2 separate regions of the Homo sapiens genome follow, and region 1 is linked to region 2. The links come from fine-mapping of genetic effects on gene expression. Tissue or cell type: tibial nerve. Region 2 holds a variant in brackets; the other region holds the start of a gene. All regions are shown on one strand. Distances are between the middles of the regions. Region 1 holds the start of BANK1 (B cell scaffold protein with ankyrin repeats 1). Region 2 overlaps BANK1 (B cell scaffold protein with ankyrin repeats 1).

Evidence for each region. PIP is the estimated chance that this variant, and not a neighbour inherited with it, causes the effect.
Region 1: it holds the start of BANK1, and the variant in region 2 is the best candidate, but not a certain one, in a credible set for the expression of BANK1 in tibial nerve (GTEx, PIP 0.76).

The regions. Positions count from the first base shown.
Region 1 is chr4:101,787,924-101,793,314 of GRCh38, reverse strand. It overlaps BANK1 (B cell scaffold protein with ankyrin repeats 1), which reads right to left and starts at 2,585. Exons shown (of 17, transcript NM_017935.5): 1 at 2,365-2,585. The coding sequence starts at 2,434. RefSeq lists a silencer at 2,309-2,498.
Region 2 is chr4:102,044,350-102,049,740 of GRCh38, reverse strand. The region is part of intron 11 of BANK1 (B cell scaffold protein with ankyrin repeats 1); the gene reads right to left. Among named protein-coding and RNA genes, the nearest start is that of BANK1, 260 kb to the right of the region's middle. The variant G/A (reference allele first, on the strand shown) is at 3,037.

The DNA.
Region 1 (5,391 bases), 260 kb after region 2:
ACAAGTGTAGGACGTTGGCTATGTTGGAAGATTGCAGTCAAAGCAAAAAGCTTCAAATCTTTAAGAACTTCAAGCTAGAGAGCAGAGACCTAGACAAACCATGTTCCTTACAAGTATAAGCATCCAGCGTAAGGTGAAACAGTCTAAATGCTAATTCCACCCTTTCATGCTTTCTGTTCTTAAGCAAATCATTTATTAAAGTTTCATCAGATGCATCCAATAATATCAATAAAAATTTAAAAAAAACTATGGTGTGGAGAAAAATCTGTGATTTAATAAATAATCACTCCCTAATTAAAACAGCAGTTAAAATTAAATTTTTAAAATCATTAGTTTTGGAATACAACAGGAAGAATCTCTCTTTTGGACATTGATAGTAATATATAGTTAAATACAAACCAGAAAATACATTCTAACTAGAACTTTCACCCATTGTGCATCATTTTTACCTTGTTTTAGAGAACTGGGTATTCTATTTTTCTTGCTTCCATTAAAGAACAAGTCGATACTCAACAGTTAATAAATCTCTGATGGCAGTATACACTAATGTTGTCTAGCAGTACATTCTATCTCCTGCTAGAAATATACCTTCCTGGGCATGAAACTGTGTTTACCATTTTACATTCTTATTACTACTACATGACTCTTGGCAGGGAATAAAAGTTTGTTAAGTTAATGAATGGGTGACCTTCAAATAATTACTAGTTATGAAACCATGAGCAACTCACACTCTGGATCTCAGTGCTCTCTTCTCTAAATGAGGCAGTTGGACCAATTGACCCCCAATGTGCCATATTAAGATAGTTGTTGGAGAGAGAGGGAGCTCTTCATTAAAAAAAAAAAAACACACACACACACACACACACACACACAAACCACTGGATTTATAAAAGCTAGAAGATTACTCATATCAAGAATATGGGCATGGGATAATGTCAAAAGACAATTCGTTTTTAGAAAAGTTTCATTATGTTGGCCAGAAAAGGAAGTAACTGAAGCAAGTGATAAATACTGCATGGAGAAGGACCCAAGGAGTTGGGAGGGGCGGGGCGGGGGGGGAGCGGAATGCATGGGAGGAACAAGAATAATTGGAATGCTATAAATATTGATTCACATTACTCTTGCATTATTCACAATAGCAAGTGCCTCAAAGTATTGCTTAGTATCAAGTGAAATAAAAGGCATTTTCTGCCTAAACTGTTTAATCTAGAAGTTTGAAACAAACTGTACCCCATTCTCTAACAAAATTGTTAAACTGAAATTACAAAAGAGGTAACCTGCTCAAAGTTTGAAAGACATGGTTGGTTTATTTATAGATGCTAGCAAAGTCTGCTCTGCTGAAGACCATCAGAGCCACAGTTTTCAAGAATGTCAATATGCAATAGTTAAAATATTAATAATATTAAGTTATGGGCTCTAAGTCCTTTCTTGTCACTTTTCATTGACACAAATATACTTCTTATTTAACTGAAAGCAATCCCTAAAGCTTATTTATGTAAAAATGCACTAGCCAACAGAAATAGCTACAACCAAAATTACATTACCTAAAAAATTCTAGAAAGGTATGAGAAATTTATTTCTATTCAGCAAATTAAGAAACTTTCACTCAGAATATACTTTCTTGTTGCATTTCTCACCACGAACACTCCAGTAATATTAATACCTAAGTGAAGTTTTTTAATTTAAAAAACATTTTTATATCACTGAGTAATTTGCAAATGCATTTGAAATGCTTCAAAAAGAACTAAATAAAACTGCCTTAACGTCCATTTGAAAATATAAATCTACTTCTGCATTCAACCAAGTTGACCGTTTTCCTTTGACCAAGTTAGTAAAGCCAGTGGAGTAGGGAGGTGGTGTTGGTAGAGTTTCTCTGCAAAGCCACCTGCCAAGAAGCAGGGCTACCAATTCACCAGGCTGGGATTTGTCAGGCCGGGCAGGTAAATGCGTGACGCTACACATGAGCGGTTTTTCTGTGCTTACCGACTGTTGAAAATAATTACGTATAATTTTAAACGCGCATTGCTTTAAAACAGGTTGCAAAGTGATTTTAGAAACTACAGGACCCTGACCCGGGTGCTGGGGAAAGTTCCAGCTCCTCAGAAGTTGCAGACACTGAGGGTAGCCCGCTGGCCAGAACTCCCAGCGCGCTCCCTCCTCGTGGCGTCCAGATGCCCCTCAGAGAAGTCAGGGACAGAAGAACCCTCTGGGCTGCCTGGCGGCAGGATAAAAAGGAGAAGCCCTGTCTCAGGGACGCCCTGGCCTCAGTGCCCGAGTGCAGTTGTCTAACGATGGCCCGTGGTCTCCGCAGAGCCCCGTAGCCCGGCCTCGGCGTCAAGCCCCTCCGAATGCGCGACTACCCACCTGGGGGCGCTGGGCCGCAGGGGGCGGGGTCCGGGCTCCCAAGCCCCTTGCCTGGCGCTGCTGGCAGCATTGTGGCGGTTGAAGCCGAGGGGCCTGCGCACTGCTGCCCGCCGAGCGCTACCTGGACTCTCCCGGCCAGAGACTCCCCGCGATTTTCTCTTCCTTTGGCCCTCGGCTCTCCCCAGCCCGCTTGCCACCCGCGGAGGCTGCGGCCAGGTCTCAGGAAACGCAGCCCCGGGGCTCATGCCCGCAAGGCCAGGGCTCCGCTCTGCTGGGCGCCCAGAGGAAGTGAAACTGCTCAGGGGCCTGCTCTTACATCCCTTCTCAAAAGGCCGCTTTGGTTTCTTATAACACTTCTGCGCCTGTTTCCTTCCTCACCTTTTCATCCTAGGATATATTTAGACCGCTGTTATTGTAGCTCTCCTTGTCCCTTTCTAGGTCTTCCATACTGCCATACTGCCCCCACTTCCAGGCAGACGTAGGGAAACCAGAAGTGAACATTTGCTGGAAAGAAAGAATAATTAGATAGATAGATGAGTAGGTACACAGATGATAGATACATACATATAGAAATGAAGATACAGATAATACTGTAACTTTTAAAATATTTCATTTTACACAGACTTTCTAGGCTAGGTTCATAAATTGAAAAGTGATTTAAAATTCCATATAAAATGTATTTCTTACTCCTGCTCCAACTCAAAAATAGACCCAGTAAAAAATTATTTATGGCTCTAAATACCCTCTCCAAACAAGAGTTTGTTTGCTTGTTTTTAAGATGGAGATATATCAAAGGAGTTGTCCCAGAACCTTAAAGTGAATGTCTCTCTCTCAAGCATGTCTAAACTAGTCATTTGCCTTTTGAAGTTGAATATATTTTTTGAATATCAATTTGGTAATAATACATAGTTTAAATGTTCCTCTCCTCTTCCTATAAAAGGAAGGCTTTCTTTGAAACTTTCTCTCGGATGAAGTGCTTTTTAGTAATAATATAAATATCAAGTATCAAAAAAAGTTAATTTTTTCACATAAATGAACTTATTAGAACTTTATAACATAATGTAGAAAACTTGGAGAAGTATGCGAAATGTCCAAAAAACTTGAAAACAATTATAGATTGTATTGTATTTATCTGGTTTCCAGTAGTTTCTTTAACATCATTATTAATTTTATGTTGATTTTCTGAACTTTATATAATGGAACAAAAGATTTCATCTAACTTATGAAATATTATATTGAAAAAAATGGTTGTCTTCTATATATGCCTGTTAACAGAGAGACTTCAGTGTAATAGGCAAAAACAAATTTGGATTGCAGGGTTTGGGTGTTGTTCAGTGTTTCAGAAACTCAATTCTTAGGAAAGTATGTCTTAAACCCATTGGAGAAAAGAATATTCTAACTGATGCATCTGCTGGTATACGTATTCCTGACAAGAGCTACTTTAGCCAACATGAACACTCCAGATGATGCTCCCCAATTAAGTATCCAGATCTTCAAAGGCACCCATTTATGCACACGAAAACTTGTTAATAAAGACAGTGTTCAGATAGGAACTTGTATCTGTCACATATACAGGACAGCCTTCTTGTATGAAGAGCCCTGGATTGGAAGTCAGAAGGTTGCAGCTGCCATCCTGACTCTGCTCCACAATATCTGGGTGTTTGGAGCAATTCTTAATATTTCTGAGCCTTGCGTATCTCATCTAATTTATTCATTATTAATGAATAAATTAAAATTACTGTATTCGAGTTTCTGCCAGATATAAAATGTTATAACACTGTCTCCTAATAAAACTATAGAAAATAAGATTTATAATATGAAAATTAAGTATATTTTCAGAAGCTCATTTCCACTACTTATGTCAAATGATGCTAGTAAATAGAAAAAAGAAAGTAAAAACTGCTGAAAATTGTGGGCTGTTTTTTTTTTAAAAAAAATAAGATTATGTGTTAGAAAATCTTTAAAATCTCCCATTAAAATTATTCTAGCTTCACTTTTCTTTTGAATAAGAAAATAGCCATTGACTACCCCATTGACTGACTTATTTATTCTTTTGTTTTACTGTTTGCAGTCAACAACTACTCTTTTTTTAAGTATTCTATATCCTATGTTCTATGTAAGAGTTTCACAATATTCATGTCATTTGGTTCTCAAAACAAGGAAGGTTTAACCATATTTTACAAATGAAGAATCTGGGCGTTGAAAACTGTAAGTGGCAGAGCTGGAATTCAATCCTAGATCTGATTTCATAGCCTGCCCTCTTAATTATAACTGCCCCCCTCCCCACCGCTTCCTTTTAAGGTCACATAAGGCCCTTGCTAAAGATTACATGAACATAATAGGATAGGTTATACATATATGTGTTGAAAACGTTTTTTGTTTCCCTATCCACTTTTCCACAGAACTATAAGCCCATACAATTAAATACTAATATCCTTAAAAATAGGTATGAACTGTACTTATAATTTATTACAATTTTGGTGCTATTTGGTTGAGGATATATAGATGTTCACACACGCGCACACACACACATACACGTGATAACTTAAGTCTACATGTTTTCATACTTTGCTGATGCATTTATAAAAATATATTTTAAAAGATTTTTTACTCATTTTGGTCTTGTTTCTGTGTCAAGTACGTCTTTAATCACAGTTGACTTTATTTTTCCCCTGCTTTCTCCCTTAAGGAGATGATACCATCTGGAATGTTGGGTTATCTCTTGGTTCATACTTGTTCTCAGGAAAGAGGCACTTAGCAATTCTCACACCGAGAGGCTTTTTCAGGCAAAATACCACCAGCAGTGTGTAATCGCAGGTTTCTGATTTTACCTCTGTTACAGAATGACAAGAAAATGCTAGTCACAGTAGGTTTCTCATTTCTCAATATATCAAACTCTTGGATCCATTGACTTCTTCCCTTGCATTATTTTTTTTAGCGGCATATTGACAGCCTCAATATTATTACCCCACTCTGTGAAGATTATAAAAGCCTCACACTGGCCCTGTGTTCCAATAAATGGACAGC
Region 2 (5,391 bases):
AAGAGACTGCCTTTCACTGGCACTGGCTGTGACCAATTACGGTTTTAAAGAGACAGTTTAACAACTACCTAACCATCACCTGGTGGTCGTCTGACATTCCTGGGTGGGTGGCCCTCTCCTGCCCTGCTCGTGTCTGCCTAGCTGCCTACACTACCCTTTTGCCCTCTAAGAGTGAGAGCAACAACACACCCTTGATAAGGTTCATTTGACTATATGGCTGAGGAGATCTGTGGATGTAATCTATGATTACAGGGAGGCAGCTTGTTAAGAATGCTTGAACCTCATCAGTTGCCACGTGTCATATCCACGGTAAGATGGGGATGATCTTGATATAGATAGAAAAGGCCCTTCTGTACAGTCCAAGATGTGAACAAACTTGACCCTAGACTATATATGATTTTGTAAAACAAGGAAAATTAGCCAGATATTTCCATCTTTGAATAAGGAGCCCTTAAATTCTTTCAACATTTTTGACTTGATCATGTTCACTTAGAAATCTTCTAATGACTAAGTATATTTTATAGAAACTTTATTATCTGGCAGAGACCAAATAATGCAAGCAATCCAGTCACTGGAAAGCCATCTTCCCTTATTATAGGTTTAATGATTGGAATTGGGGGTATGAATCAGTCCTCTGTGAGCTTCGATAACATAAGCCAGACTTCAAAATCCTGATCAATTCCAAACACACTGGCAAATGCAGTTTTCTGACTAGAAATTTCTAATTTCTAGCACTAGTATTTTCTAATTTCAAATCCAAATTGGGAAAATTGACTTTAAAACTGTTTTGATGGAAAATTTTATCTGTGATCCAAAGTCCTCAGCATTTTTCCTTACATTTTTTCAAAATGTGGAAACTGAGTTGAAGAATCTGTTGAGTTTCCATGGAAATGGTGCCAATTAATTATTTTTTTCTTCCTTAGGAAAATTCCTTGACTTAGCAATAATGTAACTTCCTGGCAATCCCTTGCCAGTCTTAAACTTAGTGCACTTGAAATGCTTATACTTTCAATGGGAAAACAGTTGGCTCTCATCATCCCTTTTCCCTCCAGCATATAGAGGAAGAGTTAAATAATAATTCCTTTTTACCTTCTTTAGAGAACTTGTCTAGTCCCTTTAGAAAATCTTGCCTCTGACAAACATTATATAAAAGGCCCTTTTTATTGTTCTACCAAATAAAGAGAGTATCACTGGTGAAGTATGTACTGCTTTTCCTAGTACACCATGAAATCCCAGGATATTTGAAGAATATTCATTAATTAGGTAATAAGCAGTTTTCATTGCATAGTATGTTACATGGACTGAATGATCATAATATCTGCAACAGTTTAGAGAAATATGGTTGGATGAAATCAACCTTGTTAGCTATTTAGGTACTTAATTCTTTTATTACTAAGTATTCCAAATTATCTTGTTTTCATGCTAACTGCTGATTTCCCTGCACACTATAGTCATCAGGGAGGTTTTTAAAGAAACATTTGATAAGGATTGATGTTTCCTTAGTCCTTACAAATAAAACAATATGCTGTTCCCTTCTGGTACATTACTGATGTTCAGGAATAAAGGAATCTAAAGAAACTGCTCTAAGATGACTAATCAAAAATATCATCAATAAGTTGTATTTAAGTATGTACACAGAAAAAATATTACAGACAAAATATGATTAAAATGTTAGTATCTGAGTCCCTACAGAATTTTTAAAAATCTAGAGGTAATTGACCTTGATTATGCAAATTAGGTAACAAGATATGGACAGATAGTAATCAATACAATATTGCATAATTAGGTCCTCGTTTCCCTTTACCACCCTCTCCTCCCCTTTTTCTGTGGGCAGATGGGTACTAATTGTCTATACATGGTAGAATAATGACAGGGCTCTTCTAAGCTTAACAGATACTAGCAGCCCTTCCTTGCATTGCTCTCTGTGGGACAGCCAGGATAACTGATAAGATCAAACATTCCAAGGATCTCTTCATTACACTTGATACTCGTCATTTCTCTTCATCTCCTGTGGCCTTCTTTGCATTTTCCCTTTAATTCTAACATAATTTAATTAAAAACATGGTAATTGAATAATTTATAAGAAAAACACTTCAGGGATTTTTCTCCCAAAAATCTCCTCTCTTCATTCTTTCCAAAGCTCTGTGAGGTATGTATGGGAGGCCAGGTAGAAATAATCTTATCTACTTTGTTTAATTCTTTCGTAGCTGTTCTGATCCTAATTGTACAATGATCTTACATGTAGCTTTGCATTTATTTCTTGAGAGAGCTAAAGGCACAGTGGGAGGATAATAGTAGACTTAAAAAAGATCTATCTTTCTCCTTAAATATGAAATCACTAAAAATGGAAAACTGTCAAATAAAGAGTTTTTTGCATGTAAATTTACAAGCAGTGTATTAAAGTGTTTCATGAGAGAATAAAAGTTCAGCTTCATCATGTGTTGCATTCAAACACCGTGTATTAACTGGAAGATGATCTAAGTACCACCTTGCTGTTGTGAAAAAATGCCACTTGAAGTGATGGGTGAGGATCACTCATTTAAGAATGCACCCTTGTTTGAAGGATGATTCATAATGTCCTAGGAGCAGGTCCATTGAAGGTCTGTATTTAATAGTTCAGTGGGTGTTAGAATTTGGTGCAATCCATTCCCAGCCATCTTCACAATGGCAAAAAAGGAGCCTGACTGGGAGTGGTTAGTAGTTGCTGTGAAACAATTTCCTGGTTTTATTCCAGTGTCTCTTTCAACAATTTACCGGCACCATTTTCAAGGAAATATTAGTTTGGACTGAAGTTATTTCAAAGATGGGCCTGTATGTACACATTCATTATCATGGGCAGCTAATGTTACCCCCTACCTCTGCCACCTTTAATGTTTTTCATTTTTGAACATTGAATAAGGCCTTATTGTCAGACAAAAAATCATAATACATGATCTGCTACAGTCTTTCTTTTCAGCAGAAGACAAACATTTTAGGGAAAACTGGAGGCAGAAAATATTCTGTCTGTGGAAGATGTTTCTGTGGCTACAGTTTTCA[G/A]CTCTTCTCTGCATAACAAATAATTGTTCAAGAAATGTTAGATCAAGTGCTGAAGGCAAGAGAACAGTTAAAAAGGATGCAGTCTTTGATTGGCATTTAGTGCAAACCATAGAAAACTCATGCTAGCCCCTTTCTTTGGAGGAATCAAATCATTTGCCACTCCTACCAAGTTAGGTTCCAGAGGCTTCCCTTATAGGTCTATGAAAACACAGCCTCTGATGCATCTTAGATAATTTTTCTTACTTGACCTTCCTGGAACCCTCATGATAACATCGACAACACTATCACAAACATTCTGATAAGGTTATTTCATGCCTTTGTTAATTAAAATAATTTTCTTGTATTAATTGTATTATGGCAAAATTATATTGTGTGAGATTAAGAGTAAGATTTATGTCTTTAATCCATCTTGAATTGATTTTTGTATAAGGTATAAGGAAGGGATCCAGTTTCAGCTTTCTACATATGGCTGGCCAGTTTTCCCAGCACCATTTATTAAATAGGGAATCCTTTCCCCATTGCTTGTTTTTCTCAGGTTTCTCAAAGATCAGATAGTTGTAGATATGCGGCGTTATTTCTGAGGGCTCTGTTCTGTTCCATTGATCTATATCTCTGTTTTGGTACCAGTACCATGCTGTTTTGGTTACTGTAGCCTTGTAGTATAGTTTGAAGTCAGGTAGCGTGATGCCTCCAGCTTTGTTCTTTTGGCTTAGGATTGACTTGGCAATGCGGGCTCTTTTTTGGTTCCATATGAACTTTAAAGTAGTTTTTTCCAATTCTGTGAAGAAAGTCATTGGTAGCTTGATGGGGATGGCATTGAATGTATAAATTACCTTGGGCAGTACGGCCATTTTCACGATATTGATTCTTCCTACCCATGAGCATGAAATGTTCTTCCATTTGTTTGTATCCTCTTTTATTTCCTTGAGCAGTGGTTTGTAGTTCTCCTTGAAGAGGTCCTTCACATCCCTTGTAAGTTGGATTCCTAGGTATTTTATTCTCTTTGAAGCAATTGTGAATGGGAGTTCACTCATGATTTGGCTCTCTGTTTGTCTGATGTTGGTGTATAAGAATGCTTGTGATTTTTGTACATTGATTTTGTATCCTGAGACTTTGCTGAAGCTGCTTATCAGCTTAAGGAGATTTTGGGCTGAGACAATGGGGTTTTCTAGATATACAATCATGTCGTCTGCAAACAGGGACAATTTGACTTCCTCTTTTTCCCAATTGAATACCCTTTATTTCCTTCTCCTGCCTCATTGCCTTGGCCAGAACTTCCAACACTATGTTGAATAGGAGTGGTGAGAGAGGGCATCCCTGTCTTGTGCCAGTTTTCAAAGGGAATGCTTCCAGTTTTTGCCCATTCAGTATGATATTGGCTGTGGGTTTGTCATAGATACGCTCTTATTATTTTGAGATATGTCCCATCAATACCTAATTTACTGAGATTTTTTAGCATGAAGCGTTGTTGAATTTTGTCAAAGGCTTTTTCTGCAAATATTGAGATAATCAAGATGGATTAAAGGCTTAAACGTTAGACCTAAAACCATAAAAACCCTAGAAGAAAACCTAGGCATTACCATTCAGGACATAGGCATGGGCAAGGACTTCATGTATAAAACACCAAAGCAATGGCAACAAAAGCCAAAATTGACAAATGGGATCTAATTAAACTAAAGAGCTTCTGCACAGCAAAAGAAACTACCATCAGAGTGAACAGGCAACCTACAAAATGGGAGAAAATTTTCGCAACCTACTCATCTGACAAAGGGCTAATATCCAGAATCTACAATGAACTCAAACAAATTTACAAGAAAAAAACAAACAACCCCATCAAAAAGTGGGCGAAGGACATGAACAGACACTTCTCAAAAGAAGACATTTATGCAGCCAAAAAACACATGAAAAAATGCTCACCATCACTGGCCATCAGAGAAATGCAAATCAAAACCACAATGAGATACCATCTCACACCAGTTAGAATGGCAATCATTAAAAAGTCAGGAAACAACAGGTGCTGGAGAGGATGTGGAGAAATAGGAACACTTTTACACTGTTGGTGGGACTGTAAACTAGTTCAACCATTGTGGAAGTCAGTGTGGCGATTCCTCAGGGATCTAGAACTGGAAATACCATTTGACCCAGCCATCCCATTACTGGGTATATACCCAAAGGACTATAAATCATGCTGCTATAAAGACACATGCACACGTATGTTTATTGCGGCATTATTCACAATAGCAAAGACTTGGAACCAACCCAAATGTCCAACAATGATAGACTGGATTAAGAAAATGTGGCACATACACACAGTGGAATACTATGCAGCCATAAAAAATGATGAGTTCATATCCT